Regions from separate parts of the Homo sapiens genome. Here regions 1, 3 and 4 are each linked to region 2. Evidence: fine-mapped expression QTL. A gene starts in region 2. Each other region holds a variant in brackets. All regions are shown on one strand. Distances are between the middles of the regions. Region 1 overlaps FLYWCH1 (FLYWCH-type zinc finger 1). Region 2 holds the start of FLYWCH1 (FLYWCH-type zinc finger 1). Region 3 overlaps GREP1 (glycine rich extracellular protein 1). Region 4 holds the start of FLYWCH1-AS1 (FLYWCH1 antisense RNA 1).

The links.
Region 1: its variant is fine-mapped to the expression of FLYWCH1 in whole blood (TOPMed, PIP above 0.99).
Region 3: its variant is fine-mapped to the expression of FLYWCH1 in whole blood (TOPMed, PIP above 0.99).
Region 4: its variant is fine-mapped to the expression of FLYWCH1 in coronary artery (GTEx, PIP 0.99). The same link has a PIP of 0.9 or more in spleen.

What each region holds. Positions count from the first base shown.
Region 1 is chr16:2,933,326-2,941,325 of GRCh38, forward strand. FLYWCH1 (FLYWCH-type zinc finger 1) reads left to right here. Exons shown (of 10, transcript NM_001308068.2): 5 at 1-257; 6 at 391-654; 7 at 3,796-4,059; 8 at 4,859-5,131; 9 at 6,707-6,767. FLYWCH1-AS1 (FLYWCH1 antisense RNA 1) reads right to left here. Exons shown (of 4, transcript XR_007064947.1): 4 at 5,138-6,655. Among named protein-coding and RNA genes, the nearest start is that of FLYWCH1-AS1, 19 kb to the right of the region's middle. RefSeq lists an enhancer at 4,866-5,479. The variant A/C (reference allele first, on the strand shown) is at 4,640.
Region 2 is chr16:2,907,552-2,915,551 of GRCh38, forward strand. It overlaps FLYWCH1 (FLYWCH-type zinc finger 1), which reads left to right and starts at 4,380. Exons shown (of 10, transcript NM_001308068.2): 1 at 4,380-4,603; 2 at 6,625-6,738. RefSeq lists silencers at 4,131-4,190, 4,241-4,550, 4,571-4,720, 4,751-4,850, 4,824-5,013.
Region 3 is chr16:2,991,648-2,999,647 of GRCh38, forward strand. GREP1 (glycine rich extracellular protein 1) reads left to right here. Exons shown (of 29, transcript NM_001396456.1): 9 at 756-791; 10 at 1,158-1,187; 11 at 1,284-1,316; 12 at 3,051-3,080; 13 at 3,159-3,191; 14 at 3,280-3,315; 15 at 3,637-3,669; 16 at 3,972-4,007; 17 at 4,092-4,124; 18 at 4,849-4,884; 19 at 5,026-5,058; 20 at 5,406-5,438; 21 at 6,156-6,188; 22 at 6,709-6,741; 2 more. Among named protein-coding and RNA genes, the nearest start is that of GREP1, 7.4 kb to the left of the region's middle. RefSeq lists enhancers at 2,073-2,574, 3,894-4,866, 6,534-7,034, 7,035-7,535. The variant G/A (reference allele first, on the strand shown) is at 4,276.
Region 4 is chr16:2,949,195-2,957,194 of GRCh38, forward strand. It overlaps FLYWCH1 (FLYWCH-type zinc finger 1), which reads left to right. Exons shown (of 10, transcript NM_001308068.2): 10 at 1-2,014. It overlaps FLYWCH1-AS1 (FLYWCH1 antisense RNA 1), which reads right to left and starts at 6,963. Exons shown (of 4, transcript XR_007064947.1): 1 at 6,676-6,963; 2 at 4,998-5,332. RefSeq lists enhancers at 6,112-7,033, 7,034-7,953. The variant C/T (reference allele first, on the strand shown) is at 4,639.

The DNA of each region.
Region 1 (8,000 bases), 26 kb after region 2:
CCAGCCCGATATGGAGGGCCTGGAAGCCCGGCGGCAGCAGGAGAAGGCCGTGGAGACGCTGCAGGCTGGGCAGGACGGCCCTGGGAGCCAAGTGGACACGCTGCTCCGAGGCGTGGATAGTTTGCTCTACCGCAGGGGTCCGGGTCCCCTGACTCTCACCAGGCCTCGGCCCAGAAAGCGAGCAAAGGTCGAAGACCAGGAGCTGCCAACCCAGCCCGAGGCCCCAGACGAGCACCAGGACATGGACGCAGACCCGGGTGAGCTGCCTTCCTTTGGGGCTCACCGGCCCTGCCTTGACTCTTGCCTCCAGAGGTCCAGGGAGGGAAGGGGGTGCGATCAGGCCTACCCAGCCCCTGTCCCCTCCCCTGACTGCCTCTTGAACCTCCCCAGGAGGCCCTGAGTTCCTGAAGACGCCCCTGGGGGGCAGCTTCCTGGTGTACGAGTCCTTCCTCTACCGGCGGGAGAAGGCGGCTGGGGAGAAGGTGTATTGGACCTGCCGGGACCAGGCCCGCATGGGCTGCCGCAGCCGCGCCATCACCCAGGGCCGACGGGTGACTGTCATGCGTGGTCACTGCCACCCGCCCGACCTGGGAGGCCTGGAGGCCCTGAGGCAGCGGGAGAAACGCCCCAACACGGCGCAGCGGGGGAGCCCAGGTACCTGGGGGTGGGCTGGGAGCTGGGCCCCAGGAAGCAGGCAGGAGCCCCACACTGCCTTTCCCTCTCCATGCTGCGGCTCCCCCTGGCAAACGTCCTCTTCCCTTCTTTGAACATCCTAGAAGGAACTATGGCCCTGGCCTCCTACTCCTTGGCCCCCCTGATGCCGCTTTCAATGGGTCTCACCTTCCTGCTCAGCCCAGCCTCCCCCTTCCAGCCTGACCTGCCCCACAGTAGCAGCAGCAGGGATAGACCTCCCTGCCCTCCTCTTCCTCCGTTTGTCTTAAGAGTTCATAGTAGTAATAGAGGGTGTTGACTGCACATGGTCAGTCTCGTTGCTATGGTGGAAGGCTGTCTTAACGTCTGAGTGGTTAAGGATTGAGGAGGTGATATTTACTTACATGCAGCCGGTTTCTCCTCTCGGCCCGCTGTTCCATAGACACCCATAATGTCCTGAAACGCTGGCCCGAGGAGGGTCCCGGCTGTCTCCATCTTTATCCACACGGTCGGCCCCCCGCAGTGCCTGGTGTTTTGACTTCACAACCACAGTTGCGTAAATGTCCCCATAGCGTCTGGCTGAGGAGCCATTTCATCGTGGCCTCCTCCACTCACCTGCTCTTCCTTCACGCCCCAAGGCGCTGGCCTCTCTTTCCAGTGGCTCTTCCGGATCCTGCAGCTTTTGGGTCATGTGAGTTGCCTCATGGCCCTAAAGTTCTCTCGGACTTGAGAGCTGTGATTGTCTTTCTCTTTTTGTTCCATCTCCAGAGAGACAGTGCTGCGAGGTCCCCGCCTCGTCCTCACCCCCGCTCCTGACCCCACAAGTAACTAAGCAATTGTTTCTTAGGGTCTTGGCTGCCCTATTTCCTAAAATGTGCCTCCACTACTATTAATTGGTTTTTCCATTTCCTTGTCAGCTACTCAGTGCACTTCTTGCACAGGCTTTTTTTTTTTTTTTTTTCTTTGAGACGGAGTCTTGCTTTATCACCCAGGCTGGTGTGCAGTGGCGTGATCTTGGCTCACTGCAACCTCCGCCTCCCGGGTTCAAGCAATTCTCCTGCCTCAGCCTCCTGAGTAGCTGGGATTACAGGCGCCTGCCACCTCGCCCAGCTATTTTTGTATATTTAGCAGAGACAGAGTTTTACCATGTTGGCCAGGCTGGTCTCAAACTCCCAACCTCAGGTGATCTGCCTGCCTCGGCCTCCCAAAGTGCTGGGATTACAGGCGTGAGCCACCATACCCGGCCACGTTTGGTTTCACTTTAGCCTAGAAACCTGCTCGCGGCTGACTGGGGGGTGCTCTGTGGTCCCATCTTCCTAACACAGCTCTGTCTTCTCTGTGGGGTGGCAGCTGCTGCGTTTGTTTGCCTGCTTTTGTGTGTCCAGGTCGACCCCACCTGGATCCGATCATCCACAACCGCAGGTTGCTGGAACCTCCCAGTGCAGCCTGGCCTGGGGGCAGAGGCCGGGCCCAGCTGTCCCTCGGGGTTCACTGTGCTGACTCCCTGCTTCTGGGCCTGCCTTTCTCTTTCTTGGTTTTCTTTATAATTTTGTGGTTTGGAGAAGTCCTGCCTCCCGTCGTTTCCTGGGCCGGTCCCGGGAGGTAGCACGTTGAGGCCTTTCATGTCTGAAATGTCTGTCGCTTCCCTCCGCCGGAGGGGCAGCCTGGCCTCCGTGGTGTCACAGGTGCAGAGCCTGCCCTTGAACGTCCCTGCCGCTTTTGCGTGACTGATCCTCTGTGTGCCGTCAGCTTTGCTTGAGGTTTTAGGGTCTTTGCTCCCTCCCAGCTGTACCTGGCTGTGCTGGGGGCCTTTTTAGGCTTTGGGCTTGTGTCCTTCATCGTGGGGTCATCCTCTCGTGCTCTTTGTTAACTTCCCCATCATCATCCCTTTCTGTTGCTCCTGTTAATCAGATGTTGATCCTCCCAGATGAGGGCGTCTTTTTTTTTTTTTTGAGACAGTTTCACTCTTGTCGCCCAGGCTGGAGTGTAGTGGCGTGGTCTTGGCTCACTGCAACCTCTGTCTCCCAGGTTCAAGTGATTTTCCTGTCTCAGCCTTCTGAGTAGCTGGGATTACAGGTGCACACCACCACGCCCAGCTAATTTTTTGTATTTTTTTAGTAGAGATGGGGTTTCACCATGTTGGCCAGGCTGGTCTTGAACTCCTGACCTCGTGATCCGCCTGCCTCGGCCTCCCAAAGTGCTGGGATTACAGGCGTGAGCCACCGTGCGCAGCCCCTTGCTGGATATTTTCATCCGTGTGGAAGGGGATAAAGCGTGCCCCATGGTCACACCACCCCCTCCCGTGGCCTGGCGTCCCCACCTTCGTCCTGACCTCTTCTGTCTCGTGGTCCCCAGGCTCCTGTGCTGCTGTGCCCCTCAGGGTCCTCCTGCCTCCCGAGCCTCCCTGCTCCACATGGCCCCTGCCCAGCCCTCTCCATCCCTCTTGAAGGTAGTTCCACAGCCAGACACCCTCCCGCCCCCCGCTGGCCTCTCCTCTAGGGCTTGCTACCCACCCCCATCCCCTGCTTCCACTGCCACCCGATGTGTCCACGATGCCCCAGGCCACCTCCCCACCTCTGTGGCCCCTGAGCCTGCACGGAGGAAAGGGTATCCTCTGGGCAAGGCACAGCCACCCGCCAGGTCCTCCCTCTCACCACATCCAGGACAGTGGACGCTGCTCCCTGCCTCTTCCTCAGAGTCCTGGGGTCACACCTCTACCTGCGCGGCTCTCGGGGGCCACCCCTCTCAGCCCCATCCGGCTCCTGAGCAGCTTTGTCCCCAGAGGGCCCCGGGTCATTCCTCTGACCAACCAGGCACGGCGCACCCTGCATGCAAGCCTGGGCGGGTGCTGGGGACGGACGAGTGACGCAGCAGACACTGCCTCCCTGAAGGCATGGCAAGGTGGGACGCTTGGCCGCCACCTGCAGGGGCCTCACCTGACCAGTCCCCAGCCTCAGGAGGCGGACCCCAGCAGCTGGAGCCCCAGCAGAGTTGGGGGGATGGTGGCATCTGTGTCCTGGGCTCCGGGGCCACCTCACTGTGAGGAGGAGGTGTGGGCGTTGTGGGAGGTCTCATCTCGGGGCCATGCTGATCTGGGCTCTGAGAGCTGGTGTCCGCTGCTCCTCCCCTCCCATTTCTCAACAGGAGGCCCCGAGTTCCTGAAGACGCCCCTGGGGGGCAGCTTCCTGGTGTACGAGTCCTTCCTCTACCGGCGGGAGAAGGCGGCCGGGGAGAAGGTGTATTGGACCTGCCGGGACCAGGCCCGCATGGGCTGCCGCAGCCGCGCCATCACCCAGGGCCGGCGGGTCATGGTCATGCGCAGGCACTGCCACCCACCGGACCTGGGCGGCCTGGAGGCCCTGCGGCAGCGGGAGCACTTCCCCAACCTGGCGCAGTGGGACAGCCCAGGTGCGTGTGGAGGGTGCTGGGCTGGGTCTGCCTGGTCTCCCAGGACCTGTGCCCCACACGCTGGCTGGAGGCTGCCCGTGGGGTGTTGTGTGTTGTGCATGGTGGTCTGACAGCCGGGGCCATAAACTCCCCAGGGGCAGGAGGCTCCATCTGCGGGCTCCGAGCTCCTGCAGCTGGTCCTCTGGGTAGTGGGGACTGGCTGTCGGAGGTAGAAACCCACTCAGCTCTCTAGAGGAAGAGGATGGTGGCCAGGGGTGGCATTGGCAGCCACAGAGAGTGCTTGGCATCTGCTGACGGGCCGTACGGTGGATCCTGGACACTCTTGGTCTACCCCCACGCCACCCACACTGCTTCTAGTCTCACGGGGTTCTCTCTGGCCACCCCAACATCATGTGACCTTTTAGTTCAGCTTGTTAAAAGTCAGCTGCCAGCTGGCTGAGGGGTAGGTGGACAGGGAGCCAGGAGGCCCTGGTGCCCAGCCCAGAAAGGCTCAGCCCCTGCCCTGGGGGATGCACCTGCAAGCATGAGGTCTGAGGGGTTGGGAGAGTCCTTCAGGAGCATTCAGGGTCCAGTGCTTGCC[A/C]GGCCACGTGCCCAGTCATCCCCAGAGCCCTTGGAAAGGGCCAGCCAGCGTGGGAGTCTGGGCTGCAGGGCCCAGAGGGGAGGAGGGCAGGGACCACCGTGCAGCGTGCTAGGGGATCGCAGATTCCTGGTGGGGCCTGGCTGGGGGATACAAATCAGACCCCCAGCCCTGCCACCCAGGCCCCTGTGGCCCCACTCACAGTGTCACTTTCCCTTTCAGATCCTCTCCGGCCCCTGGAGTTCCTGAGGACTTCCCTGGGGGGCAGGTTCCTGGTGCACGAGTCCTTCCTCTACAGGAAGGAGAAGGCGGCTGGGGAGAAGGTGTACTGGATGTGCCGGGACCAGGCTCGGCTGGGCTGCCGCAGCCGCGCCATAACCCAGGGCCACCGCATCATGGTCATGCGCAGCCACTGCCATCAGCCTGACCTGGCAGGCCTGGAGGCCTTGAGGCAACGGGAGCGGCTCCCCACCACGGCCCAGCAGGAGGACCCAGGTACAGGCAGGCTGTGGGGCAGAGGCAGGGCTGTGGGCATCCTCATCTCTTCCAGCTCAGAACTGATGCCCCAGGCCAGGCACCCACTGAGCAGACTGCTTTTGTGCACACACAAATTATTCATATAAACAGAATGTGAAACCAGTCTTTGTTTTTTTTTTTTTTTTTTTTTTTGAGACTGAGTCTTGCTCTGTTGCCCAGGCTGGAGTGCACTGGCGCGATCTCGGCTCACTGCAAGCTCCGCCTCCCGGGTTCACACCATTCTCCTGCCTCAGCCTCCCGAGTAGCTGGGACTACAGGTGCCTGCCACCAAGCCCAGCTAATTTTTTGTATTTTTAGTAGAGACGGGGTTTCACCATGTTAGCCAGGATGGTCTTGATCTTCTGACCTCGTGATCCGCCTGTCTTGGCCTCCCAAAGTGCTAGGATTACAGGCGTGAGTCACTGTGCCCAACCTTTTTTTTTTCTTGAGTCAGAGTTTTGCTCTTGTTGCCCAGGCTGGAGTGCAATGGAGCCATCTTGGCTCACTGCAACCTCTGCCTCCTGGGTTCAAGTGATTCTCCTGCCTCAGCCTCCCGAGTAACTGGGATTACAGGTGTGCACCACCACACCCGGCCAAAACCAATCTTTAGAAAGCATTGTGTGTCTCACTGTCATTCATGTGAATATTAAGGGCCATGTCCTGTATAACAGTAACAAATCCAAGTTGGCCAGGCACAGTGGCTCACGCCTGTAATCCCAGCACTTTGGGAGGCTGAGGCAGGCGGATCACCTGAGGTCAGGAGTTCGAGACCATCCTGATCAACATGGAGAAACCCCGTCTCTACTAAAAATACAAAATTAGCTGGACATGGTGACGCATGCCTGTAATCCCAGCTACGCTGTAATCCCAGCTGCTTGGGAGGCAGGAGAATCACTTGAACCTGGGAGGCGGAGGTTGCAGTGAGCCAAGATCGCGCCACTGCCCTCCAGCCTGGGCAACAAGAGTGAAACTCCATCTCAAAAAAAGAGAAGAAAAGAAAACAGCCTGGCCAACATGGTGAAACCTTGAAAGAAAACAGCCTGGCCAACATGGTGAAACCCTGTCTCTAAAAAAAAAGTTTATAAATCAGCTGGGCACAGTGGTGCACGCTTGTGGTCTGAGCTCCTCAGAAAAGGGGAGGATCACTCTAGCCCGGGAGGTTGAGGCTGCAGTGAGCCATGCACTGCAGTCCAGCCTGGGTGACAGAACAAGACCCTGTCTTTACAAGAAATTTTTTTGAGAAAAGGATTTCTTTGAGAAAGCCACTATCGAGCTTACAGAGAAAGTTGTGCTGGAGGCCTGGCCTTTCATCTTTGATGTCTAGTTGACCCCCACTATTTTCCATGACAGCAGCTGAAGGTCAACTCTTAGGAGCTCAAGTAGCTGCTGTTACCTGGGAAGGTAATTGATGCGTTGAATTCCCAGCGTTGCTTCACCCGGTTGTCTTTCTCCTCACAGCCTTGAGGGCGTCGTTAACAAGGTGTGTGTCCTTGGTTCTGTCAGCTTCAACAAGAGAAGAATTATTAATTCATATTTTCAATTATTTTTCCACAGAAAAGATTCAAGTTCAGCTGTGCTTCAAGACGTGTTCTCCTGAAAGCCAGCAGATTTATGGGTAATTGTATTTGTTATCTAATGGTGCATGACCAATTACAACAAAACGTAGTGGGCTTAAAACAACAAATATTTGCTGTCTCAGCTTTTGTGGGTCAACATTATGGGAGTGGTTGGGCTGGGTGGTTCTGACTCCTGAGGTTGAAGAGAATTTGTCAGCCAGGGTGGCAGTCATCTGAAGGCCCAAGTGAGGCTGGAGGCCCTGCTCCTCACCATAGGGACCCCTCCTTGGGCCCACTTGAGCATCCTTCACATGACAGCCATGGGACAGAGAGAGAACAAGAGGGAAGCTGCCAGCAGCAGAATTCAGGTTCTTCTCAACCACAGCCAGGCCATAAAGCAAGAGTCCATTATTTTATTTTTTGAGATGGAGTCTGTGTGTGGCCCAGGCTGGAGTACAGCGGCATGATCTCAGCTCACTGCAAACTCTACCTTCCGGGTTCAAGCAATTCTCCTGTCTCAGCCCCCTGAGTAGCTGGGATTACAGGCATGTACCACCACACCGAGCTGATTTTTGTATTTGCAGTAGAGATAGGGTTTTATCATGGTGGCCAGGCTGAGTCTCAAACTTCTGACCTCAAATGATCCTCCTGTCTCGGGTCTCCCGAGTGCTGGGATTACAGGCAAGAGCCACTGTGCCCAGCCTTGTTATTGGTTTGTAATTACATCCCACTATGGTCAAAGAACATACTTTGTATCATTTCAGTCCTTTCACGGCTGGATACAGTGGCTCATACCTGTAATTCCAGCACTTTGGGAGGCCAAGGCAGGCAGATCATTTGTAATTCCAGCACTTTGGGAGGCCAAGGCAGGCAGATCATTTGAGGTCAGGAGTTCGAGACCAGCCTGGCCAACATGGTGAAACCCCATCTCTACTAAAAATACAAAAATTAGTCAGGCATGGTGGTACATGCATGTAATCCAAGCTATTCGGGAGGCAGAGGTTGCAGTGAGCCAAGATTGTGCCACTGCACTCCAGCCTAGGTGACAAACAAAAACCAAATCAAAAACAGAGAAATTTGGGAAACTCAGAAATACGTAGAAATTAAAGAACACACTTATAAGAAACCAGTGAGTCAGACTGGGCATGGTGGCTCACGCCTGTAATCTCAACACTCTGGGAGGCAGAGGCAGGAGGATCACTTGAGCCCAGGAGTTTGAAACCAGTTGGGGCAACAGAGCATGACCCTGTGTGTAATTTAAAACAAACAAAACAATGAGCCAAAGAAGATAA
Region 2 (8,000 bases):
TCTGTAAATTCCAGACATTGTATGAGAAAGCACTATAAAACTTTTTGTTCTGTTAACTGATGTTTGTAGCCCCCAGTCACGTTCCTCATGCTTACTTGATCTATTACGACTTTTTCACGTAGACCCCTTAGAGTTGTAAGCCCTTAAAAGGGCTAGGAATTTCTTTTTCAGGGAGCTCGGCTCTTAAGACACGAGTCTGCTGACGCTCCCGGCCGAATAAAAAAACCTCTTCCTTCTTTAATCCGGTGTCTGAGGAGTTTTGTCTGCGACTCGTCCTGCTACACTATCTCTGTATGGCCTGGTTTTTCCTAGGTTATGATTATAGAGCGGGGATTATTATAATATTGGGATAAAGAGTAATTACTACAAACTAATGATTAATGATATTCATATATAATCATGTCTAAGATCTATATCTGGTATAACTATTCTTGTTTTATATTTTATTATACTGGAACAGCTTGTGTCCTCAGTCTCTTGCCTCGGCGCCTGGGTGGCTTGCCGCCCACAGCAGAAGTTGCAGTGAGCTGACATCGCGCCATTGCACTCCAGCCTAGGCAAGAAGAGCGAAACTCCGTCTCAAAAAAAAAAAAAAAAATTTAAAAAATTAAAAAATTAGCCGGGGTGGTGGTGCGCACCTGTAATCCCAGCTACTCGGGAGCCTAAGGCGGAAGAATCGCTTGAACCCGGAGGCAGATTTGCAGCGAGCCGAGATCGCACCATTGCACTCCAGCCTGGGCAACAGAGCGAGAGTCCCCCTCAAAATAATTATAATAATAATAATTGCGGCCGGGCGTGGTGGCTCACGCCTGTAATCCCAGAACTTTGGGAGGCCGAGGCAGGCAGATCACAAGGTCAGGAGATTGAGACCAACCTGGCTAACACGGTGAAACCCTGTCTCTACTAAAAATACAAAAAATTAGCCGGACTTGGTGGCGGGCGCCTGTAGGCCCAGCTACTCGGGAGGCTGAGGCAGGAGAATGGCGTGAACCCGGGAGATAGAGATTGCAGTGAGCCGAGATCACACCACTGCACTCCAGCCTGGGCAACAGAGCAAGACTCCGTCTCAAAAAAAAAAAAAAAAAATTGCGGTGGTCTCAACGATGTAAAATTAAAGGTAGTGATTCATTTTCACAAAGATTGACAAGAAAGATGACAACTGGAAACTCAAAAGACCCAGAGTAGGCAAAAGAATATTGAAAAGGAATAACAGGCAGGACGCAGTGGTTCATGCCTGTAATCCTAGCACTTTGGGAGGTCAAGAGGGCAGATCACCTGAGGTCAGGAGTTCGAGACCAGCCTCGCCAACATGGTGAAACCCTGTCTCTACTAAAAATACAAAAATTTAGCCGGACGTGGTGGTGGGTGCCTGTAATCCCAGCTACTTGGGACCCTGGGGCAGGAGAATCACTTGAGCCCGGGAGGTAGAGATGGCAGTGAGCCAAGATCGCACCATTGCACTCTAGCCTGGGCAAGAAGAGCAAGACTCCGTTTCTAAATAAATAAATAAGTAATAGATACATCAATGGAATAGAATCAAGAATCCAGAAACAAACCACATTTATGATCAATTGGTTGTCAACAAGGGTGCCAAAGGTAGGGCGTGGTGGTTAGCACTTTGGGAGGCTGCGGCGGGTGAATAACTTGAGCCTAGGAATGTAAGACCAGCCTGGGCAGGATAGGGAAACCCCGTCTCCACAAAAAAAAAAAAAAAAAAAAAAAAATTAGCCGGGTGCGGTGGTGTGCACCTGTAGTGCCAGGTACTTGGGAGGCTGAGGCAAGAGGATCAATGGAACCCAAGAGTTTGATGGAAGCTGCAGTGAACTGTGATCTCACCACTGCACTCCAACCTGGACGACTGAGGGAGATTCTGTCTCAAAAACTAAACAAAACAAACGAAGAAACAAAAACAGCATCCTGGCCGGGCATGGTGGCTCATGCCTGTAATCCCAGCACTTTGGGAGGCCAAGTCGGGCAGATCACCTGAGGTCAGGAGTTTGAAATCAGCCTGGACAACGTGGTGAAACCCCGTCTCTCCTAAAAATACAAAAATCAGCCGGGCATGGTGGCGCACGCATGTAGTCCTAGCTATTGGGGAAGCTGAGGCGGACAATCTCTTGAACCGGAAAGCAAAGGTTGCAGTGAGCCAAGATAGCGCCATTGCACTCCAGCCTGGGCATCGCAGTCAGACTCCTCTCAAAAAAAGCTGGAGGGGCTGGGCGTGGTGGCTCACGCCCGTAATCTCAGCACTTTGGGAGGCCGAGGCGGGCGGATCACAAGGTCAGGAGATCGAGACCACGGTGAAACCCCGTCTCTACTAAAAATACAAAAAATTAGCTGGGCGCAGTGGCAGGCGCCTGTAGTCCCAGCTACTCGGGAGGCTGAGGCAGGAGAATGGCGTGAACCCGAAAGGCGGAGCTTGCAGTGAGCCGAGATGGCGCCACTGCACTCCAGCCTGGGCGACAGAGCGAGACTCCGTCTCAAAAAAGAAAAAAAAAAAAAAAAAGCCGGGCGTGGTGGCAACTGTCTGTAATAATCCCAATCCCAGCTGCTCAGGAGGCTGAGGCAGGAGAATCACTTGAACCCGGGAGATGGAGGTTGCAGTGAGCTGAGGTCGTGCCACTGCACTCCAGCCTGGGCGACAGAGCAAGACTCCATCTCAAGAAAAAAAAAAAGTAATTAAGTTCTGCTACTATTTTATTTTTGAACAGGGTCTTGCTCTGTCGCCCAGCCTGGAGTGCAGTGGCATGAGCGCAGCTCACTGCAGCCTCCAGCTCCCAAGCTCAAGTGATCCTTCCACCTCAGCCTCCTGAGTAGCTGGGACTACAGCGCATCACCACATCCAGCTAATTTTCTCTTGTTCCTCTTTTCTTTTTTTCTGTAGAGAAAGAGTCTCACTATGTTGCCTAGGCTGATCTCAAACTCCTGGGCTCAAACGATGCTCCTGTCTCAGCCTCCCAAAGTGCTGGGATTACAAGCAAGAGTCACTGTACCCGGCCAACATGGATGAACTTTGAAAGTGCTATGCTAAGGCTAGGCGAAAGAAGTCAGTCACAAGAGACCACATATTTGTTGCATGATTTCATTTATATGAAATATGCAGAATACGCAAATCTATAAAGACAGAAAATAGATCATATTACTTAGGGCTGGGGTGATTAGCAAATTGGAGGGTGGTGGCTAAAGGTTTCTTCTTGGAGTGATGAAAGGTTTTAAAACTGACTATGGTGCTGTTTGCACAACTCTCTGACTATACTACATATCATTTAATTGTACACTTTAAATGGGAGAAATGCATGGTATGTGAATTATATTTCAATAAAGATCTTACCAAAAAATAGTAAGCTGATTGTGTTAACATAGTTTTATGAAAAAGTACAATATTTTCCCAAAGAAATTTAGTGAGACGAGTGACATAGTTATACATTTTTGCAAATATCTTTGTTGCGGGCTTAAAAGAAGACTACTGGCTCTCATACCTGCTTCTACATTCAATGTGTTACATCACACGTCATGCAGACTTTGTAATACTATGTAATATTTCTGCTTTTTTTTTTTTAGACACAGTCTCACTCTGTCGCCCAGGCTGGAGTGCAGTGGCGCCGTCTCGGCTCACTGCAACCTCCGCCTCCCGGGTTCAAGTTATTCTCCTGCCTCAGCCTCCCGAGTAGCTGGGATTACAGGCGCCCAGTACCACGCCCGACTAATGTTCGTATTTTTAGTAGAAACGGGGTTTCACCATGTTGGCCACGCTGTTCTCGAACTCCTGACCTCAGGTGATCCACCCGCCTCGGCCTCCCAAAGTGCTGGGATTACAGGCGTGAGCCACCGCGCCCGGCCCAGGTATTTTTTTGTCGTTGTTGGCTTTCTGATGTAAGAAACAACTGTCCCTTCTCCCCCGTTGACTTATTTCCTTCAGTTTGGACTCATATCGTAGTCAAGGTTATAATCCGTTGCTATCGCTGTTTATTTGAATCTCACACTGGTTCCGCTCTGGGGTAGGGTCACTGGGGGCGTCAATGAGATGCATGAGAATCGCCTTCCCACGGGGTCAGGAAACTGACAGGCCCAAGAGTGCATCTCAGCAAACGCTCCGTTTCCTGCGGGCAGCCTCAGATACTGGGGACCGTCCTGGGGTCTCAATTAAGCGCCCCCTACCCCAGCCCCTTTACGCCAAGAGCGTCCTGTTCAGCTCCCCCATCCTAGCTCCGCCCCTGGACGCCGCCGTCCAATCTCGGGATGGCCCCGCCTTTTCCGTGAGTTACGTCCCCGCCCCCATGCGCTGACAGGCCAGGCCTGCGGCTCGGCGCCGCGCAGGGAAGACCCGGAGCAGCGGTTTACCTAAGGAACGGGCCGCGCGGTCTTGCTGCGCATGCTCTGAAGTAGCGCGCCTGAGCGTTCCGCAAGGCCGGCTCCCCGGCGGGGTCGCGCGCGCGGTCACGGGGCTCGCTCCCGAGGGGCAGGTCGGGGCTGGGAGCTGGTGCCCGGGTCGGGGTGGCGGCGGCGGCCTGGGTCGCGGGGTCGACGCTCGCTGCTGCAGCGGCAGAGGCTGAAGGATCCGCCGCGGCGCTGTCGCGGGAGAGGGAGGGCCCCGCTGCCGTCGGTGAGGACAGGCCCCTGCGGGCGGGGAATGTCCCGCGTCCCCGGCGTGGACGCGCCCGCAGCCCGGCTCTCCCGGGGGTCCCGAGGGTTGCGGGTGCTGGGGAGGGGTCTGCGTCCCGGCGCTCAGGCCGCCTCCTGTGGGGTCTCCCGCGATTCCCTCCTTGCTCCTCGCCCCTCCATCCCCACCCCCCCGTCCCCTGGCCTAAGCCCGACACCCCCACATCAAGGATCCCCGCACTCGTCCGCCGTTTCCTGGCGGTGTCTGCCCCGCCCAGCGCTGCCTTCCTGGACCCGCAGCATCAGCCCCGTCCCACGGTTGCAGCTCGGGCGGTCCCAGTGACCTTGCACTTTTGCGGGTCGGGACGCACCCCGCTCCCGCTTCTGACCCTATAGATCTCCGGTGACGGCTTTCGAACTTTGTTGACCCACAGCCGACACTGAGAAATGCCTTTTACGCGTGTACTCTGTGCCTGTGGGTCTGGATGACTGAAGCACAAGTTTAAAGGGAGACGCTTGTTTAAGCTCACATGACGCAGCTGGATCTGTTCGGATTAAATTCCGTTCCATTCTCTTCCACCCCGTTCCAAAAGGCTGCTGCTAACCCATGGAGCCTGCACATAACGGGTCTGACGTAGTTGAAACCCTCGCTCTAAACCCTGCCTGTTGTTCCTTTATTCCTTGTACTGGAAGCTGAACTCCCATAGTCAGATAATCATGTGCAAACTCCAATTCCAACGAAATGGCTTATTTTTATTTGCATATTTCTGCTTTCCAAGGGCCAATATGATTTCCAGGGCTTGATCTAGATTTTCTCGTGTGATTATATCATGTTTCTCTTGTTCCTTTCCCAAGTGCTACTGGCGGGACGTGTGGAAGGAACAAGGCTGAGGTTGGGGCTAGATTGCGGAGTGTTTATGACGCCCAGCTGATGATGCACTAAGGCTGGAGATGGAGATGATTTAATTGGGGAGAGACATGCTGAAAGTTAAGCTTTAGGAAGAGTGACCTGTCAGCACCCTATGTGGAGAATTGGAGTGGCTGCTTGCCAAAGCTGGCAAGATCGTTCAGAGGCTTTGGCTTGGGCTAAAGAGGTCGTGGTAAGGGATCATGTCCTGAGTTGGTGGGAGTGGGAAGGAGAGGGAAGATGGGTATATCAGGCATAGAGGGAGAGAGATTTGAGGATGCATTAGGCTGTGGGAAGGAGTAAATAAACTTATATTATGATGGAGGGTGACTGGGGAATACCGGGCTGGGGGGGTCTCATTGGCCAAGCTCTCCCTTTCTGTGCGCTCTAATTTCTAAGTTGCTTTGGAGCTGTGGCTCTTGGGCAATTCTGCACCCCAGGGAACGTTCTGCAGTGTTGGTGGTCACAACGTGTGGTAGGGCATGACAGTGGGATCTGGCAGGTAGAGACCGGGGTTGCTGCTGAACACCCCACGCTGAACAGGACAGCCTCCCACAGCAGAATCATCCGGCCCAAAATGCCAACGGTGCTGAGATTGTGAAGTTCATTTTTAGAGTAAATTTTAATTATCTGGGCATCTCTGCCACCTTCAACCTCTTCAGGAGGAATGTCTGTGTGCACCCACTGAGCCTGTGATGTCACCATAGTGGTTCATGTCTGAGGCAAGTGCACCTCCAACGCTCATGGTTCAGTTGCGGGTAGGTGGGAGGTGGGTAGACACTGGAGTCATCCAGGAGCTTTAAAAAAAAATTTTTTTAGTAGAAATGGTGGGGGCGAGGGGCAGGTCTCACTATGTTGCCTAGGCTGGTCTCGAACTCCTGGGCTCAAACAATTCTCTCACCTGAGCCTCCCAAACTGCTGAGATGACAGGTGTGAGCCACCGTGCCACCGGCCCATTCAGAAGCTTTTTAAACAGAGGGCCTTCCCTCCTCCCGCTCCTATCACTCAGGACCCCTACTGCACCTGGATGCTGAACACCTTGTTCTTGTCTAATGGTCGACAGTTCATGGAATAATTTCACCTGCAGTATTTCATTTGCCACTTTACTTTCTTCACAGGTGAAACCAGCCCAGAGAAGTTACGGGATTTGCCCCCGGGGCTCCTGCCCAGCAAGCCAGCGCCGTGACCCAGGTGTGGGGGATGATGGTGACGCTTCTCACTCACGTGTGAAGGTAATTCTGTGGCTCCATCAGCTGCCGACAGAGCCGCCTGGTTTTCGAGCCTTACTGATTAGAGTTTGGACCCCTTGGTGTCTGAGAGACACCTGACAGTTGCTAACATGTGACCCTTAGGTCTACGCTGAGCCCTTGTGGTCACCAGCAGGACCGCAGCGTCCCAGTAGGCCATCTGGCATTGCACTCAAATTGCTCCGCACCCTCAATTCTGGGAGAAGGGGAGAGAGGACAGGAGAGTGATGCACCATGAACTGAGACTTTGGAGCTTTCCATGCAAATCTGCCGGCCTGTGCTCCATTCACTTAAGAAATCTGTACTGAGTGCAGCCAGGCATGGTGGTTCACGTCTGTAATCCCAGCACTTTGGGAGGCTGAGGTGGGCAGATCACCAGAGGTCAGGAGTTTGAGACCAGCCTGGCTAACATGGTGAAACCCTGTCTATACTAAAAATACAAAAAATTTAGCTGGGCGTGGTGGCGCACACCTGTAATCCCAGCTACTCAGGAGCCTGAGGAGCAGAATCGCTTGAACCTGGTTCAAGGATTCAGCGGAGGTTGCAGTGAGACAGGATCGAGCCACTGCACTCCAGCCTGGGCGACAGAGTGAGACTCTGTCTCAAAAAAAAAAAAAAAAAAAGAAATTTGTACTGAATGAAGATTGAACATTACAAAAGAAACACATTAGGGCCCCTGTATCTACTGTAAAACAATGGGTATCTACTGTAAAAAAAAAAAGCACTTAAACTAGAGTAACAAAAGTTTCTAATTTTTATTAAATGAGATATTTATTGAATTTATTAAATAATATAAATGTATTAAAATATACTCATTTTTATTACATGCACTGAAATTTTTTTTTTTTTTCCTGAGACAGTCTCATTTTGTTGCCTAGGCTGGAGTGCATTGGTGTGATCTTGGCTCACTGCAACCTCCATCTCCCCGGTAGGTTCAGTGAGTTCTGCCTCAGCCTCCTGAGCAGCTGGGATTACAGGCATGCACCACGACCGACTAATTTTTTTGTATTTTTAGTAGAGACAGGGTTTTACCGTGTTGGCCAGGCGGCAAACTGGGATTACAGGCCTGTGCTACCAAGCCCAGCTAATTGTTGTATTTTTAGTAGAGACAGGGTTTCACCATGTTGGCCAGGCCGGTCTCAAACTCCTGAGCTCCACCTTACTGGCTAACGGTAAGTAAAATCTTTAACATGTGTTTGCTTTATATGAGTATAAAAGAATTGTATTTCCTTTGTTTTGGTCTAGGG
Region 3 (8,000 bases), 84 kb after region 2:
TCTGTCCCCCTCTCGGTCTGTGTTACCCTCCCCAGGCACTCGTCCCTCTGTGGCCTGCCAATGCCATTCCTGTGGGTGGGGACTCCTGTGGAGGCCTCTGAGCTGCTTCCTGGGCATGCGCCCTTAGTGAACTGTCAGGGTGTGGAGCACAGTGGCCCTGGGTGGTGTTTGGACCACGGACCCGCACTCCACATGGCCTAGGTCCAGCCTCTGCCTCCCTCACCCCACAGGCCCAAAACCAGGTCAGGGAGGGTAGGGTGTTGCGGAGGGCCTGGGCTTGGGTCTGGGGGCTCCAGGGAGCTGCAGCCTCCTTTACCTGGTCTCTCTCTCTATTCCTGGCATGGGGCGGGGGGTGAAACCTCTGAAGACAGGTGTGCCTGCCCTTTCCTGTGTCCCTGTCCTCCACTCCCCACATACACACATCCGGCCCTGCCTCTGCTTCCTCCTTCTACTCGGTCTCCCAAGATCTGGTGATGGGAATGGGATGGGAGCTGGGGCCTTCCTAGGAGCTGGAGCCCAGCCAGGTGAGGGCAGCTGGACCACACTGGGATTCTAGAAGACACAGGGAAGAACCAGGGGATATCAGAGGTCCAGAAGGCAGAAAGTTTATTTCTGGGGGAGGACAGGGGATGGGTGGGGTCCGTGAGCCCCTGCTCTCCTCTCCCCTATCTTGACTGTTTCCCCTGCATCTATGGCCTTGTCCCACCCTCAAGCCCTCCCCAGATCCACCCCTCACACACTGCTTCTCCTCCCAGGATACAACAATGGAAACGGACCGGGAACCCAGCCAGGTCGGGGCCGAAGGGGCTGGGGTGGCTGGGGGAGAGGTCAGGGGCCCAGGGCCACACTCTGGGTCCCAACAGATGGGCTCTTGGGGGTTCATTCATTCACCCAATCTCCCCTGAGCACCCGTCCCAAGCCAGGCCTCGGCTGGCCATGGAGGACACCCAAGCTGGTCAAGGGTGGCCACGGTCTGGACTCCCGGGCCAAGAACCAAATCCAACTTTGACTGCAGTCAGGCCTGGGAGGGAGTTCACACAAGACAGAAAGGCAGAGGGCAGGGGTCACGCGAGACAGAAAGGGAGAGGGCAGGGCTCCAGGCCCCAGCTCATCCCCACTGCACCACCTTCCACACTCCTGTGTCTGCCCTCAAACAGGTCCTGCCGCTCAAAATGGCTTTGGACCAGGTAAAGAGGGTGGGGACGGAAGCGGGGAGCCTGGGGCTGAGATTCTGGGCACAGGCCCAGAGGAAAGGATCCCTCACCCTCTCATCTTCCCCCCAGGCTTTGGAGGGGGTGGAAAACCCCAGAAGCCAGGTGAGCCACTCCCTGTCCCTGTCTCCCTGCCCATTTCCTATGCATCTGCCGCTGCTTCCCTAGAGTCCCTGATCTCCCCATTCTCTTTGGCTCTGTCCCCTGGGATTTGGGAATAGGAATGGGTGGGGAGTCGGGGCCTTCCTGGGAGCTGGAACCCAGGCAGGTAAGGCCCTGGAGTTCTGGGAGCATGGAGGTCTTAGGGGTTGGGGGTTACTGATGTAGGGGCCTGGCCCTGGTCCTGAGCAGAGAGGAAGGGATGGGTGGACTCACAGGAAGTCCTTCCCCTTCTCTTCCCAGGCCTGGGAGGGGGACTAAAGGCTCAGAGAGCAGGCGAGCCCCAATCTCTAGCCTCCCAACTTGGTCTCACACAACAAACCTCATTCGACAAACCAATCCAGGCCTGGAGCAGTGGCTAACACCTGTAATCCCAACAGTTCGGGAGGCAGAGTTAGGTGGATCAATTGAGCCCAGGAGTTCAAGACCAGCCTGGGCAACATTCCCAAGCTGGTCTTGAAATCTTGGGCTCAAGCAATCCATCTACAAAAAAAAAAAACCTAGCCAGTTGTGGTGGCACGTGCCTGTAGTCCCAGCTACTCTGGAGGCTGAGAGGTGAGGATCACTTGAGCCCAGGAAGTCGAGGTAGTAGTGAGTGGAGATCTTGCCACTGTACTCCAGCCTGGGTGACAGAGAGAGATCCTGTTTAAAAAACAGACAGGCCGGGCTCAGTGGCTCACGCCTGTAATCCCAGCACTTTGGGAGGCTGAGGCGGGTGGATCACAAGGTCAGGAGATCAAGACCATCCCGGCTAACACAGTGAAACGCCGTCTCTACTGAAAATACAAAAAAATCAGTCGGGCGTGGTAGTGGGCACCTGTAATCCCAGCTACTCGGGAGGCTGAGGCAGGAGACTGGCGTGAACCCAGGAGGCGGAGCTTGCAGTGAGCCGATCGTGCCACTGCACTCCAGCCTGGGTGACAAAGCAAGACTCCGTCTCAAAAACAAACAAACAAACAAACAACAACCAAAGTAATCCGTGGACCATGCCTGTTCTGAGCCAACCAGGTGCTGGGGACAGGCCCTCCCCAACCAGGGCCACGCTGGGGCATACAGTATGGGCTGAGGCTGCCCCAGAGCTGGGCTCTGGGAGTTCTTAGGAGGCAGTGGAGGCCAGGGAGGAGAGAGTGGCCCAACCCTCTGAGAAACTGAACCAAAAGGAGAGTTTTGAACAAAGAAGGTACAGGCTCCAGCAAGATCTCAGACCTGGCCAGGCGCAGTGGCTCACGCCTGTAATCCCAGCACTTTGGGAGGCCTAGGCGGGCGGATCACTTGAGGTCAGGAGTTCAAAACCAGCCTGGCCAACATGGTGAAACTCCGTCTCTACTAAAAATGCTAAAAATTAGCCAGGCGTGGTGGCGGGCACCTGTAATCCCAGCTCCTCAGGAGACTGAGGCAGGAGAATTGCTTGAACCCGGGAGGCGGAGGTTGCAGTGAACCAAGATCACGCCATTGCTCTCCAGCCTGGGCAACAAGAGCGAGACTCCATCTCAAGAAAATAAAAAAAAGAGCTCAGACCCAAGATGTGGCAGGAGCTGGAGCTTGACAGTTGGAGGCTGCTGAGGAAAGGAACCTGCCTTTCTGGCTCGTTGAAGTTGGGGGTGGGGACACCCCTGCCCGAGGTGGCTGGAGATGGCATCCAGGGCTCCGGAGGGCCTTAACCCTTTCTCTCCTCCACAGGCCCCACCACTCAAAATGGCTATAGACCAGGTAGGGGCGGGGCTGGGGTTTGGGGAGGCCCAGAGCTGGGGCCCCAGGTTCCTCACCTGCTCCCTGTCTCTCCACCAGGCTATGTGGGGGCCGTCAAACCCCAGAAGCCAGGTGAGCCCTGCCCCGGCCTGTCCCTCTGCCTCCCCAAAACCTGAGCTCCCTCCCCTCATTCATACCCCGCCTTGATCTATTCCCCCAGGATTCCAGTACAGAATTGGGCTGGGAGCCCAGCCAGGTGAAGGGGGTACAGTCTGGGGTTCCAGGGTCTGCATCTGGGCGGCCTCTTCCTCCCAGGGGCGGGATTGGTGAATGATGGAGAGGGGTGACGGGGCGTCTCCAAGATCCTTGGCTTCTGGCTTGGCCCTGAAGGGGAACCATAGGCGCTGTGTCCCCAGCTTAGCTCAGCCCTCCCACCCCGACAAGCCCCCCACCTCAGAATGGCCCTGGAGCAGGTCCTGAGGGGGATGGGAGGAGCTGGGGTCCAGATGCTGGGGTTCTGGGGTGGATCTGAGTTGGGGGCTCCTAGGTACCTCATCTGCTCCCCATTTTCCCAAAGGCTTTAGAGGGGACATGAAGGCACAGGAGCCAGGTAAGCCTGGCTCTCCCGGGCTTCTGTCTCCCCAGTGTTCAGAGCCCCCTTCCCCCTCTCACCCCCACCTCCATCTGTCCCCCAGGATTAGGGAATGGGAATGGGCTGAGTGCTCAGCCAGGTGAGACAGATGGGGTCTGGGGTTCTACCCCTGGGGCGTCCTCTCCCTGCCTCCCTTCCCAGTCTCATGGGGGGCTGAGCTGGTGAATAACTGAAGGGCTGCTGGGAGGAAGCCTCCAGGATTCCCTTACCTCCACCTCAACCAAACCCCAAATCCCCACCCCACCCTCCTCTCCCCATAGTCTTGACAGCCCAGAACCGATTTGGATTTGGAGCAGGTAGGAGCAGGGGTGGGGAGGGGCTGGGGGAGAATGTGGGTGGGGCCCCTGAGTCACTCACCAGCCCCCCTATATCTCCTCCAGGCCTTGGAGGGAATGTGAAGCCTCTGAAGCCAGGTGAGCCCCGCCCGCCCTGGTCTGCCTCTCTATGCACGAACCCCTGAAGCCATAAGCACTCTACTCATGCTCCCTCCCTCTCCAGGATATGGGAAAAGGCTGAGAGCAGGGGCCTTCCCTGGGGCTGGAACCCAGCCAGGTGAGGACACCT[G/A]GGGTAGGAGCCCAGGCTTTTTTTTTTTGAGATGGAGTCTTGCTCTGTCGCCCAGGCTGGAGTGCAGTGGCGCAATCTCGGTTCACTGCAACCTCCACCTCCTGGGTTCAAACAATTCTCCTACCTCTGCCTCCCAAGTAGCTGGGATTACAGACACCCACCACCGCACCTGGCTAATTTTTGTATTTTTGGTAGAGACAGGATTTCACCATGTTGCTCAGGCTGGTCTCGAACTCCTGACCTCAGATGATCCACCTGCCTTGGCTTCCCAAAGTGCTGGGATGACAGGCGTGAGCCACCGCACCGGGCTGAGCCCAGGCTTCTTAGAGGGAAGGGGGAAGACAAAGATCGGGCCAGGGGGCCGGGAGGGCAGAGTGTGGGTCTGAATCCTGGGGAATTAAGTGCCACTGGCTGGCCGGATGTGGCTCTGCCTCTGTGTCTCTCTGTAGGCCTGGGAGGGGGAGCCAGGCCCCCTCCCAGGGCCCTGGGCCCCCGCCCTGTCTCTAGGGCTGCGTCCTCCTGACACCCCCTCCGAATGCCGCCGTCTCACACCCTCCCCGTCCCTCCCCCTAGAATATGGCCATGGAAATGGACCGGGAGTCCAGCCAGGTGAGGGCAGCTGGGCCTGGCTCGCGAGGGGTCGGGAGGTGGGACGGGAAGAGAGAAGCTGAGGCCACAGGGACAGAGAGCTGGGGTCTGGGGATCAGCAGCACTGGCTGGAGTTGATGTCAGCCTCTCTGTCTCTCCCAGGCCTAGGAGCGGGGATGAAGCCTCAGATGCCAGGTGAGGGGACTGCCTGTGTCTGTGGCCCCACCTCCCCTAGATCCTGGTGTTCTAGCTGGGTCTGCGTGGGACTCCCAGGGGAGGGGTGACCCCTGCCTCATGAGTGAGGGGAGGTCTGTAGGAGCACCGAGGACCGAGGGGAGAGGAGGTTGGGGAGAGACTGAGAGCCCCCTTCCTGGCCCCTGCCTCCCTGTCCCCCAGTGGCTCAGCCTTACCACGTTCCCTTTTTTGCCCCACAGGCCTGGGAGCTCCAAACGGCTATGGACCAGGAAGGGGCAGGGCTGGGGTTCCAGGAGGTCCAGAGCGGAGGCCTTGGGTCCCTCACTTGCTCCCTTTCTCTTCACCAGGCTATTTGGGGGTTATGAAGGCCCAGAAGCCAGGTGAGCCCTGCCCCGCCTGTCCCTCTGCCTCCCCCAAACCCTGAGCTCCCTCCCTCATTCATACCCCACCTCAGCTCCATCGGCATTCAGGAGGGGGCTGGGAGCCGAGCCAGTGAGGGGGTGTCGGGCTGATGTCCCTGTCTCCCTCCCAGGCCTCCAGAGCAGGTGGACACCAAAATGAGGGAGGAGAGGTGGCGCCAGGATCCCTGGTTTCTGACTTGGCTCTGAAAGGGGATCCAAAGGCCCTTCGCCCTCTCCTTAGCTAGAATCCCAAACCCCCTGCTCACCCCTCCCTCCCCACAGGCCCCTTAGCCCAGAATGGCTACAGAGCAGGTACTGGGGGGCTGGAGTTGCTGGGAGTGCAGAAAGGAGGAAAGAGGTGGGGGCCTGGCTCTCCCCTGACCCTGTACTGAGGGTTTTCTTGGGGGCTCCTGCAGCCTTAGACGGGGTAGAGTCTGGAGAGGAGGCGGCACAAGGGGGAGGGAGGTGCTGGGAGCTCCAGTTCCTAAATTGGGAGGAAAGGGGGGCCAGGCTCCAGCCCCCTTCTGTACCCCAACCTCTCCCCATGCCGCCCCCACAGACCCTGCAGTTCCCACTGGTCATGGACCAGGAAGGGGAGGTTGGCATGGGCACCAGGTGGGGGACAGATGCCAGGTCTGGAAGAGACCCCTCAGTGAGGAGTGGGCATGGGTCCCTCACCTACTCGCATCTCTCCAGGTGCTGGAGAGGGCATGAAACCTCAGAAGCCAGGTAAGCCCTTCCCACTCCTCACTCTCCCTACCTGCAGAAACTGCCTACCCCTCCACCCTTTTCCCCTCCCAAGCTGTACCCTGTCTCCCCATGGTGCAAGAACGGGCTGGAGCTGGAGCCTTCCTGTGGGAAGGAGCCCAGCCAGGTGAGGGAGGTGGGTGGGACCTGGAGCAGAGGGGAAGGAGGACAGGCTCCAACGGACAGAGTTGGGTCTCAGTGGGGGAAGGGGTGGGGTGGGGTGGGCCTGTCCATTATTCTCCATGGGTCTCTGGCCTGGGAGAGAGCCAGAAACCTCCAAAGCCGAGTTGCTCTCTGCCCCTCTTCCTGCCTTCTCCAAGGTCCCCCACTCCAACCCCGCCCTCATGCCCTGCTCTCCCTCCCAGGATACACACCAGGGACCTGGCTGGGGCTCCTGCCAGGTGAAAAGACGGGGCTAGGGGGATCAGCAGGGGAGAGAGGGGTTCACTACACTCCTCGGGTGGGCTGATGTCTGAACTGGCCTCTTTCTGTCTCTCCCCAGGCCTGCGAGGGACCTTGAAGCCTCAGAAGTCAGGTGAGTGGGGGACCCCTGGCTCTGCCCCACACCTCCTTCTGCCTCTCAGCCCTTCTAGCCTCTGCCCCCAGTGTTGCCACACTCATCTCTGCTTTCCCTCTCCAGGACACGGCCATGAAAATGGGCCCTGGCCAGGTGAGGCCACTGGGACCAGGGGTGGGGGCCCAGGAGGAAGGGAGAGGGAGGCTGCTGGAAGACGGAGGGGCCTCCATCAGGAGCCCCATCCCTGCCAGATCCCTACATCCCTCTATCCCCTGCCTGGATCCCCAGGTCCCCCCAGGAGAGTGTGGACCAAGGGAGCTGGGCTTTTTCCAGCCTGGCTAATGTCCCCCTAAGGTGCTGGGTCTGCCCTAGAAGCCACTACAGGCCGGTGGCTTGGCCAGGCCAAGGCCTCCTGGGTGGCGTCGGTGAGGACTGGCCTGGAGCATAGCCCCACCCCTCCCTTCCTTCCCATCGTAGGTCCCTGCAATGCGAGGGTCGCTCCGATGCTCCTCCCCAGGCTTCCCACTCCAGGGGTCCCTTCGGACAAAGAGGGTGGCTGGGGCCTGAAATCCCAGCCCCCTTCCGCAGTGCAGAATGGCAAGTTACCAGGTCAGTGTGGAGTGGGGGTGCCTAGGGGGCACTGGGAAGCACCTGGCCCTATGAGGGTCAGGGCCTGGCTGCCATATCCCACTCTGTCCTCGGATGCCAAGGCTCAGAGAGGGCAGTGACTTGTCACACAGTGATCTGCTGAGGAGAAGCCTGAACTCTGGCCCTGGGACCCCATGTGGTCCCCAGTATGGGAGTCCTTTCCATCCCTGCCCCATGGCATCTGCAGTCTCTCAAGCCCTCGGCTGGGCTCACTCCTGCCCCTAACCTTCCTCCTAGCACCAATGCCAGCCATCCAGTGGGGACTGAAACCTCAGAAAGCAGGTGTGAGTCTGTCTGCCCCCAGGCCCCACATCCCAGAGGGACAAACTCTCAGCTAGGTCTATCCTCTGTCTCCACCCCAGATCAGGGTCACCCCTCCATCACCCTTTTTCCCTAGGCTGCCTAAGCTATTCAGGCACCCGAAGGCCAGGAAGTCCCTCCCCGAGTCTACCCTCTTGCTCTTTTTTTTTTTTTTTTTTTTTTTTTGAGACAGTCTCGCTCTGTCGCCCAGGCTGGAATGCAGTGGTGCAATTTTGGCTCACTGCAAAATACGCCTCCCAAGTAGTTGGCATTACAGGCACGCACCACCATACCTGGCTAATCTTTGTATTTTTGTAGAGTCGGGGTTT
Region 4 (8,000 bases), 42 kb after region 2:
CCAGGTCAACCCACACCAATCTCTTCTGGACAGGTGCTGGGTAGGCCTTCCTGGTCTCTGGCCGCCTGCTGCCAGGGTGTGGCCATCCCCAGCAACCGGAGCTGGCCAAACCAGAGGCCTCGCTCCGCACTCCACACTTTCCTTTCTGTGCTCCTTCCAAGTTAAATTAAACCCCCTCTCCACGATTCCCACGGCAGGCGTCATTCCCGAGATGGGAGCCAGTCCAGGGGTCAGCAGGAGCCAGCGCTGGGCACACGTGCCCTGGCTGAGGCCAGCGGCATCCTGGGTGGCCCAGGTCCATCCTGGGCAGCAAAGGCGTGTCCCCTTCTGTCAGACAGCTTCACAGAGTGTGGCTTCACCAGTCAGAGGGAGCAGTCCGGAGAGGCAAGATGACCCCACCGGGACTGCAGAGCCTCCTCCTTACTAACAAGGACCTGTCCGCAGCCGCGAGGTCCTTCACTCCCACCCTGTAATTGTGGGGGGAGTGCCAGCAACAGGCCTGTCCCCTGGCAAGTTGGCCACGGAACCCACCATGCACTGCAAGGCTGTGACAGCCTGGGCACCCCTGCTTCTCCTCTGCTTGTACGGTTCCCCCAATAAATCCTATTTTCCATCTCACCGTGTGGAGCTGGTACTTGTTCACATCCCTCTTGCAGCAACAGTTGGCCGCCGTGAAACCACACTCCGTCACATCTCCATGCCAGTGCCCAGGGGGAGACCCCTCCCCATGCCTGGGCTGTTACAGTCACCTGGCCCAGACGTAACCTGGACCAAGAGTGGACGGAGACACCTGGGGTTGGGGCCTCTGGAAGGGCTGCTGGGGGGCCAGCTGCAGCCTGTGGCCTCTCCCAGGCCCGGATATGGCAGGACATTTGCGTCGTGTTGCTGGAAGAGGCAGGATGCTCTGTTCTCGCCATTAGCCTGCGTTACGCCTAGACTCATCTGCATAAGCCTGGGCAAGTGGCACCCCTGGGCCAAGGGCAGACTTGCCCACCCGTCCATCCTTTGCCTATGGCAGAGGACACACAACACAGTGGCTGCGCTTTGGGCACTGTTCTCGGCCCTGAAGCATCCTGCCCCGAGGCTGACCTAACTGCCCCCAGCTGGACTCATGGCCAAGGCTACAGACCCAGTACTCCAATCCCGACTCCCACTGTGTGGTCCAAATGTGTACGCCCACAGGAGGCAGCCATGCCCGAGGAAGGTACTTGCTGAAAGATGGTCCAGTTCATGCCGCCACCAGCTGGACCTCTGATCAGGCCCCCTGCAGAAGGGGAAGCTCTCCACATGCCCAAGATACGAGAGAAACGCCCGGGTCACAGCAGCCTGAGTCACTGCAGCCTCTGCTACCTGCCAAGCCTGCGCCCTCCACCTGTGGGCTCCTTGCCTCTGTGATGGGGCCTCCACGGCCAGCATCTTCCCGCCATGGTCACATGATGCCATGCCCTGCTCTGGGCACCCCTAAGCGGGTATGAGGCGAATCAGAGGAAGAATATCGGCTTCTCTTCCCTTTTGGATATTTGCGTCATTGACCGGGACTGGCCCACTCTTCCTCTGCCTCACGCCTGCTTTGACCTTAGAAGACAGACGGCAGCTCGCGTTGCTGGGCTGAGATTCTCCAATGGACGTGAATTTAGATGATGCTGTTGCCTTGGGTGGCTTCATGGCCACCAACCCGCACCCTGGTGGCCACTCAGCCATGACAAGGGCCTGACAGCCACTAAGTGAGCTTCAGAGCCTTCCCCTTGCAAAGTTCCAGGGCCACCAGATGTCGCCTGCCCAGTCACTGTCACAGAGTTAAAGCGTGCGGGTGAACGCTGGCCGCGGAGCGTGCAGCCCGGCAGCAGCTCAGCGGGGCAGCTCCTGCTTCCAGCCCTGCCTCTGCTGGTGCTTCGCCCACAAACCCTGCTGTATGACATTTGCACCACATGGTGTGTGTCCGTGCCCTTTGACATGACAGTGCCAACAACATCTCATGAAATTTAAAATAAATCCCCAAGGCATCAGAAACGTATCAACTAAGAACTCTAAGTTTGAAAATGGGGGTGGGGCAGTGGCCAGTTCCGGGAGCCCCTGGCCCCCCGGGACCTGACCCACAGTCATAAGGTGGGCCCCATTCCCCAGTGGTCCCAGCCTAGCCTCCTGTCCCACCTCCTCTGCCAAGACAGAGTGGCACAGGACCCCTGTCGCTCAGGCCAGCAGGTGTGTCTCTGAGCTGGCCGTGGGCACTGACCGCCCTCCCAGGTCCCCTCCAGTGCCAGCTCTTCTGGCTTCCCCTCCCAGCCCCCTTCGTGAGCGCCTTGATCCAGCCCAACCTTGGAGTGGGGGTTGGTGATTTGGGGGCTGGACCTCAGCCCTCTTCTGCTCTGCCACTTTTGGGGTTCACGGTTTGTCAGCCCTCCCTTCTGCAAATGAGACCTGGACGTCATGTCCAGCTGCCTCCTGGGCCCTGCCCGGCATCTCCCATAAGCACCATGCAGCACAGGTGGCAGAGGGGATTGTCCTCCATCCTCTTGTCTGAGGGAGGAGACCACAAATGAGTGAGACAGTCATCCTCGCTGCCCTGCCTGTCCTGTGTCCCATCAGTCATCAGGGCCTGCCACCTGCCTTTGTCTTTTATTTATTTATTTATTTTTTAAGATGGAGTCTCGCTGTGTCGCCCAGGCTGGAACGCGATGGCGTGATCTCAGCTCACTGCAACCTCCACCTCCCTGGTTCAAGCGATTCACCTGCCTCAGCCTCCCGAGTAGCTGGGACTACAGGCGCACGCCACCATGTCCAGCTAATTTTTGTATTCTTAGTAGAGACCGGGTTTCACTGTGTCGGCCAGGATGGTCTTGATCTATTGACCTCGTAATCCACCCGCCTTGGCCTCCCAAAGTGCTGGGATAACAGGTGTGAGCCATAGAGCCCGGACCATCAATGGCTTTTAGTAAGTTCCTAGGGTTGTGCATCCATCACAACTATCTCATTCCAGAACATTATCATCACCCTGAAAGGCAGCCGCTTCCCCATTAGCATTTCCTCTCCTCTGCCTGTTTTCCTTTATTTTTTTTAGTTTTATTTTTTTTGAGGCAGTCTCACTCTGCTGCCCAAGTTGGAGTTGAGTGGTGTGATCGTGGCTCACTGCAACCTCCACTTCCTGGGTTCAAGCAATTATCTTGCCTCAGCCTACCGAATAGCTGGGATTACAGGTGTGTACTACCACACCCAGCTAATTTTTTAACTTTTAGTAGACGAAGGGTTTCAAAATCTTGGTCAGGCTAGTCTTCAACTCCTGGGCTCAAGCAAACTGCCCCCCTCAACCTCCCAAAGTGCTGGGATGACAGGTGTGAGCCACCATGCCCGGCCCCTCTGTCTGTCTCCTTCCCTCGTGTGCTAAGGAGCTGATGGGGCCCCTTTCTCTAGAGTGTAATGCTGAGAGGATCTGGAGAATCCGGGGAAGGCACTAGGACAGCAAAGGAGACCCTTTCCTGGGTCCCCGTATTCATAAACATTCCCATCCCTCAGCCCCTCACTCACGCAGGGCACTGCCACTGGCAGGTGTGGCCACATCAGTCTCCAAGCCTGTCATCCCTCAGCCCCTCACACATGCAGGGCACGCCCACTGGCAGGTGTGACCACAGCAGTCTCCAAGCCTGTCATCCCTCAGCCCGGCACTCACGCAGGGCACAGCCACTGGCAGGCGTGCACAGCAGTCTCCAAGCCTGTCTCCCGCCTGCATTGTCCCTCTGCCAAACCCGGCCCCATCACAGCTCAGCGAGAACAGGATGAGCTCAGCGCACACGCCAGCTCACACACCTGCCCAGGCACACTTTCCCCGGCCTCCTTTTTGAAACAGTCTCACTCTGTCACCCAGGCTGGAGTGCAGTGATGCCACCTTGGCTCACTGCAGCCTTTAACTCCTGAGCTCAAGCAATCCTCCCACCTCAGCTTCCCAAATAGCTGGGACCACAGGTGTGCACCAGCACACCCAGCTAGTTTTTTAATTTTTTTTTTTTTTTTTTTTGAAGCAGAGTTTCACTCTTGCTGCCCAGGCTAGAGTGTGGTGGTGTGATCTCGGCTCACTGCAACCTCCACCTCCCAGGTTCAAGCGATTCTCCTGCCTCAGCCTTCCAAGTAGATGGGATTACAGGCATGTGCCGCCACCACCCCCGGCTAATTTTGTAGTTTTTTTTTTTTTTTTTTTTTTTTTTTTTTTTATAGAGACAGGGTTTCACCATGTTGGTCAGGCTGGTCTCGAACTCCTGACCTCAGGTGATCCGCCCGCCTCGACCTCACAAAGTGCTGGGATAACAGGTATGAGCCATGGCCTAATTTTTTAATTTTTTGTGGAGACAGAGTATGTTGCCCTGGCTGGTTTCAAACTCCTGAGCTCAAAAGATCCACCGCCTCAGCCTCCCAAAATGGTGGGATTACAGGTGTGAGCCACCGCTCCTGGCTCTAAAAGTGGAAATCGAAGCGCATAACACCTGCCCCAGGTGTACTCGCCCTGTTTTTCCCATCAGGTGCGACTACCTGGTTCAAGGACCAGAAGCCAGACGTACCCAAGGGGGTTCTCAGGAGACAGAGGGTATGAGAGTCCCTGGCCTCAGGCTGCTAGCACCAGCCACGGTTGCCTCCAGATACCCGTTCCAC[C/T]GGCCCTCCAGCCACCTGCTCTGCTTCCCGGCCTGCGTGGCCAACAGAACACATCCGGCTGCCGAGGAAGGAGGCCAATCACCCCCTTCCCCATACTGAAGCCCCAGAGGAATGGGCCCAGCTGGAGGCACTTAACCGTAGCCGGGGCCATTTTGTGCACAGGGCCTACCAGGCCCCCACTGACGAGGAGGGTGTTGGACCTGAGCGGGCTATCACTGCAGCCTTTGGGGGTCCACAACCTGCCTAATGAGCCTCGCCCCTCACCACCCCCCATCCTGCCAGCCCCTCTGCGCTCCAGCACACAATTGCTGCAGAACAAATCACTAGTAATTTATCATCTCGAAACAACACCCACTTACCTCATGGCTTCTGTGTGGCAGGAGTCCGGGGAGGGGACTGCTGAACCTCTGCTCAGGGTCTCACAGGCTGCACTCAAGGTGTCAGCCAGGGCTGGGATCTCAACCGAGGCGCGAGGTCCCCTCCTGAGCGCATGTCGTTGTGTGCATAATCTTTCTCGCAGCTGTGGAGCCGATGGCCATATGCTTCTTTGGCATCAGGAGGGGGCGGCTCTGTGGCTTCCAGCCTCTTAAAGGGTGCACCTGAGCTAGCCAGGCTCGGCCAGATCAACCTCCCTTCTGATGAACGCCAAGTCACCTGATTAGAAACCCCGGTCACACCTGCAGAAATCCCGCCACTGCAACACCACGGGAGAAGTAGAAAGAAAAAAAGTAAAAAGTCCTTCCACCGGTGCCACACAGAACAATCACAGGAGAGGTGGCCCATACTCCAGGGAGGGGGTCATGGAGCACAGAGACACCGAGGGGGGATCCTGGGGCCACCTCAGAATCCCGCCGGCCACAGCTCCCAGCCCACCCCTCACTAATCACCAAACTCCCTCCCTGACCTGGGAGGCGGTGTTGGGGGCCCTCCTGTGGAAGTGCCTTGGCTCGGAGGGACCCCACTGGGCTGTGCCCTGCCAGCCATGTGGTTCCAGACAAGTCCCTGTGGGCCCCACCCTCCCCCGTACTGCCCAGTCTAAGGCAGGAAGCCTCGGGGGCTGTGTGGGGTGCCCAAATGGCCCTTCCTGGGGTCCTGAGAAGAGGCCTGCCTGGACCTCACAGATCTGCTGGGGAGGCGGGGGTCGTGGGAAGGCCCCGGGGGGCAGGCCAGGGACCAAGCCGTGTCCCCCGTGAGGCCCGAGGACAGCATGGGATGCCAGGACCCAGAGGCCCCCACCTGCTCGGTGCTGCCCAGCCCTCTCCTCACCTGTTCCGGCCCCCACCAGCCCCTGGCTTGCCTCCGAGGTGCCCATCCACCCCTGCGGGGGGGTGGGGGTGCCGCGCAGCAGGGAGGAGCGGCCTCTACTGTCTCCCTCGGTGTCTCCCGGAAAGATCCCAAGCCCCAGGCCGGGGAGGGGCCGCTTCTGCCCAGTCCCTCCCTCCTCCACGCCTGACACCTGTGGGGCCAGTGCAGGAGCCCCACCTGTGTCTACACCGCCCTCCCCTCCTGGATTCCCTGTCACTCCGGCAACAGGAACAGTTGTTCTGAGCACTTGTCATGTTCGAGGCAAATACTCCTCCTTTCTGTGAAGCAATGTGGGGTGGGGGTCCTCCTTCTATCCAAAGCTGAGGGCCCTTCTAGTGCCCGTCAAGCCCTCGAGGTGGGGATGGCGGGGTAGGCAGCTAGGAGGGACTAGGCCCCCCTGAGGGGGGCTTCCAGTCACCCCTCATTCAGACTGAGTGGAGACCAGCTGCGGCCTTCCTGGGGACAGGACACCCCCAGCCCTGCCAGCGAGTGAGCCCTCACCGGGCCTGCAGGCCTGAGGCAGGGGGAGCCGGGGAGCGGGGTGAGCCGCTGAAAGTCCGGGGGGTGGGCACTGCTTTTTAGACAGCAGCAGGTCAAAGTCAGGAGGGTGAGGGTGGCCAGGACTCTGAGGGCAATGAGGGTCCCCGGGACATGCGAAGCCCCGCATCTGCCATGGTGCTGGGGGAGGGGCCCGTGGAGGAGGGGGTGGGCGGGGTCGAGCAGGTGGCTCACCTCCTTGTTCCGCCTTCCAGGAACCAGGTCATGGTCGTCCTCACTTGCTGGGAAGGGCGGGACTGGCTCTGCTCGCCCCCACACCAGCCCCCAGACCAGCTAAGGCTCTTGGTCTCTCACCTTCCAGGGGTCCCGTGCCCCCCCACCCTACTCAGGCCATGCACCACTGACCGGGCCTGGCCCTACCTGTGGACAGCCTCCCTCCCCAGGGTGCAGGAAGGGGCCTCTCTCCATGGAAAGTGAAGCCTCAACCTGAGCAGGAGGAACAGGAAGAAAGGGCTTGGCTCACCCGCCCCCAGCCCCTGGAGCTGCCCGTGTGGGCCCCTTCCTGCCCCTGTGCAACAACACAGTGAGCTGTTCGGACAGACAGGCAGACAGACAGACAGACAGACTCCTGCATTCAGAAAGAGCCCCAGCCCAGCCAGGGCAGGGCAGCTTCCAGCAACTCTTGCAGACATTTTGGAGGCCAAGGCCGCTAGCGCCCCAGCAGCCATTCCGAGCCGACTGGCCTGGGGCCCAAATGAAGCCAGCCAGCCCTGGGCACTCCCGGGCCCTGCCAGCCTTGGGGTCCTCATCTGAGAAGGGCGGGTCCTGCAGGCCAAGCCACTGGGGTGACAGCCAGTCATCCAGCATCCCCATGGGAAAACCCCTTCAAATCCACCCAGGAGCTCAAGGGCTGAGTTGAACTCTGAGTTTCCAAATCAGGGCCCCTCCCTGGCTCTGCCCACGCTGGTGACCAGAGCATCTAGGACAAGCCGGCAGCAAGTGACCCCATCCCACCGAAATAAGCCTGGCTTTGGTCATCTCGCCCCCTGCTGTGTCCCACTGTCACCCATTCCTCAGGTGGTGGGGGAGGCGCAGAGGAACCAGGCAGCTAAGGAGGCAATGGCGGGCGGGGCAGACAGCAGGCTGGAGGGGTAGAGATCAAGGAATGCTTCTCAGAGGAGGCAGCTCTGAGCTCCGCAGCACAAATTTATTAAGTGAAGATGTAGGGAGAAGCACATCAGGCTGAGGGAACCGCAGTACAGCAGCCCAGAGCGGAGAAAGGACCGGACCTGGAAAACCAGGAGGAGATCATGCTGGGGTGTGGGGAATGTGGTGGGGGTGAGGTCACGGAGGGAGGCATGAGCCAGCCCAGGCAGCACCTTGAAGTGTTCTGAGAGCTTCCAGAGCATTCTTTTTTTTTTTTGCCCCTGCTCCCTCACCCAGCCTGGAGTGCAGTGGCGCGATCTTGGCTCACTGAAACCTCCGCCTCCCAGGGTCAAGGGATTCTTTTGCCTCAGCCTCTTAAGTAGATGGGATTACAGGCGTGTGTCACCACGTCT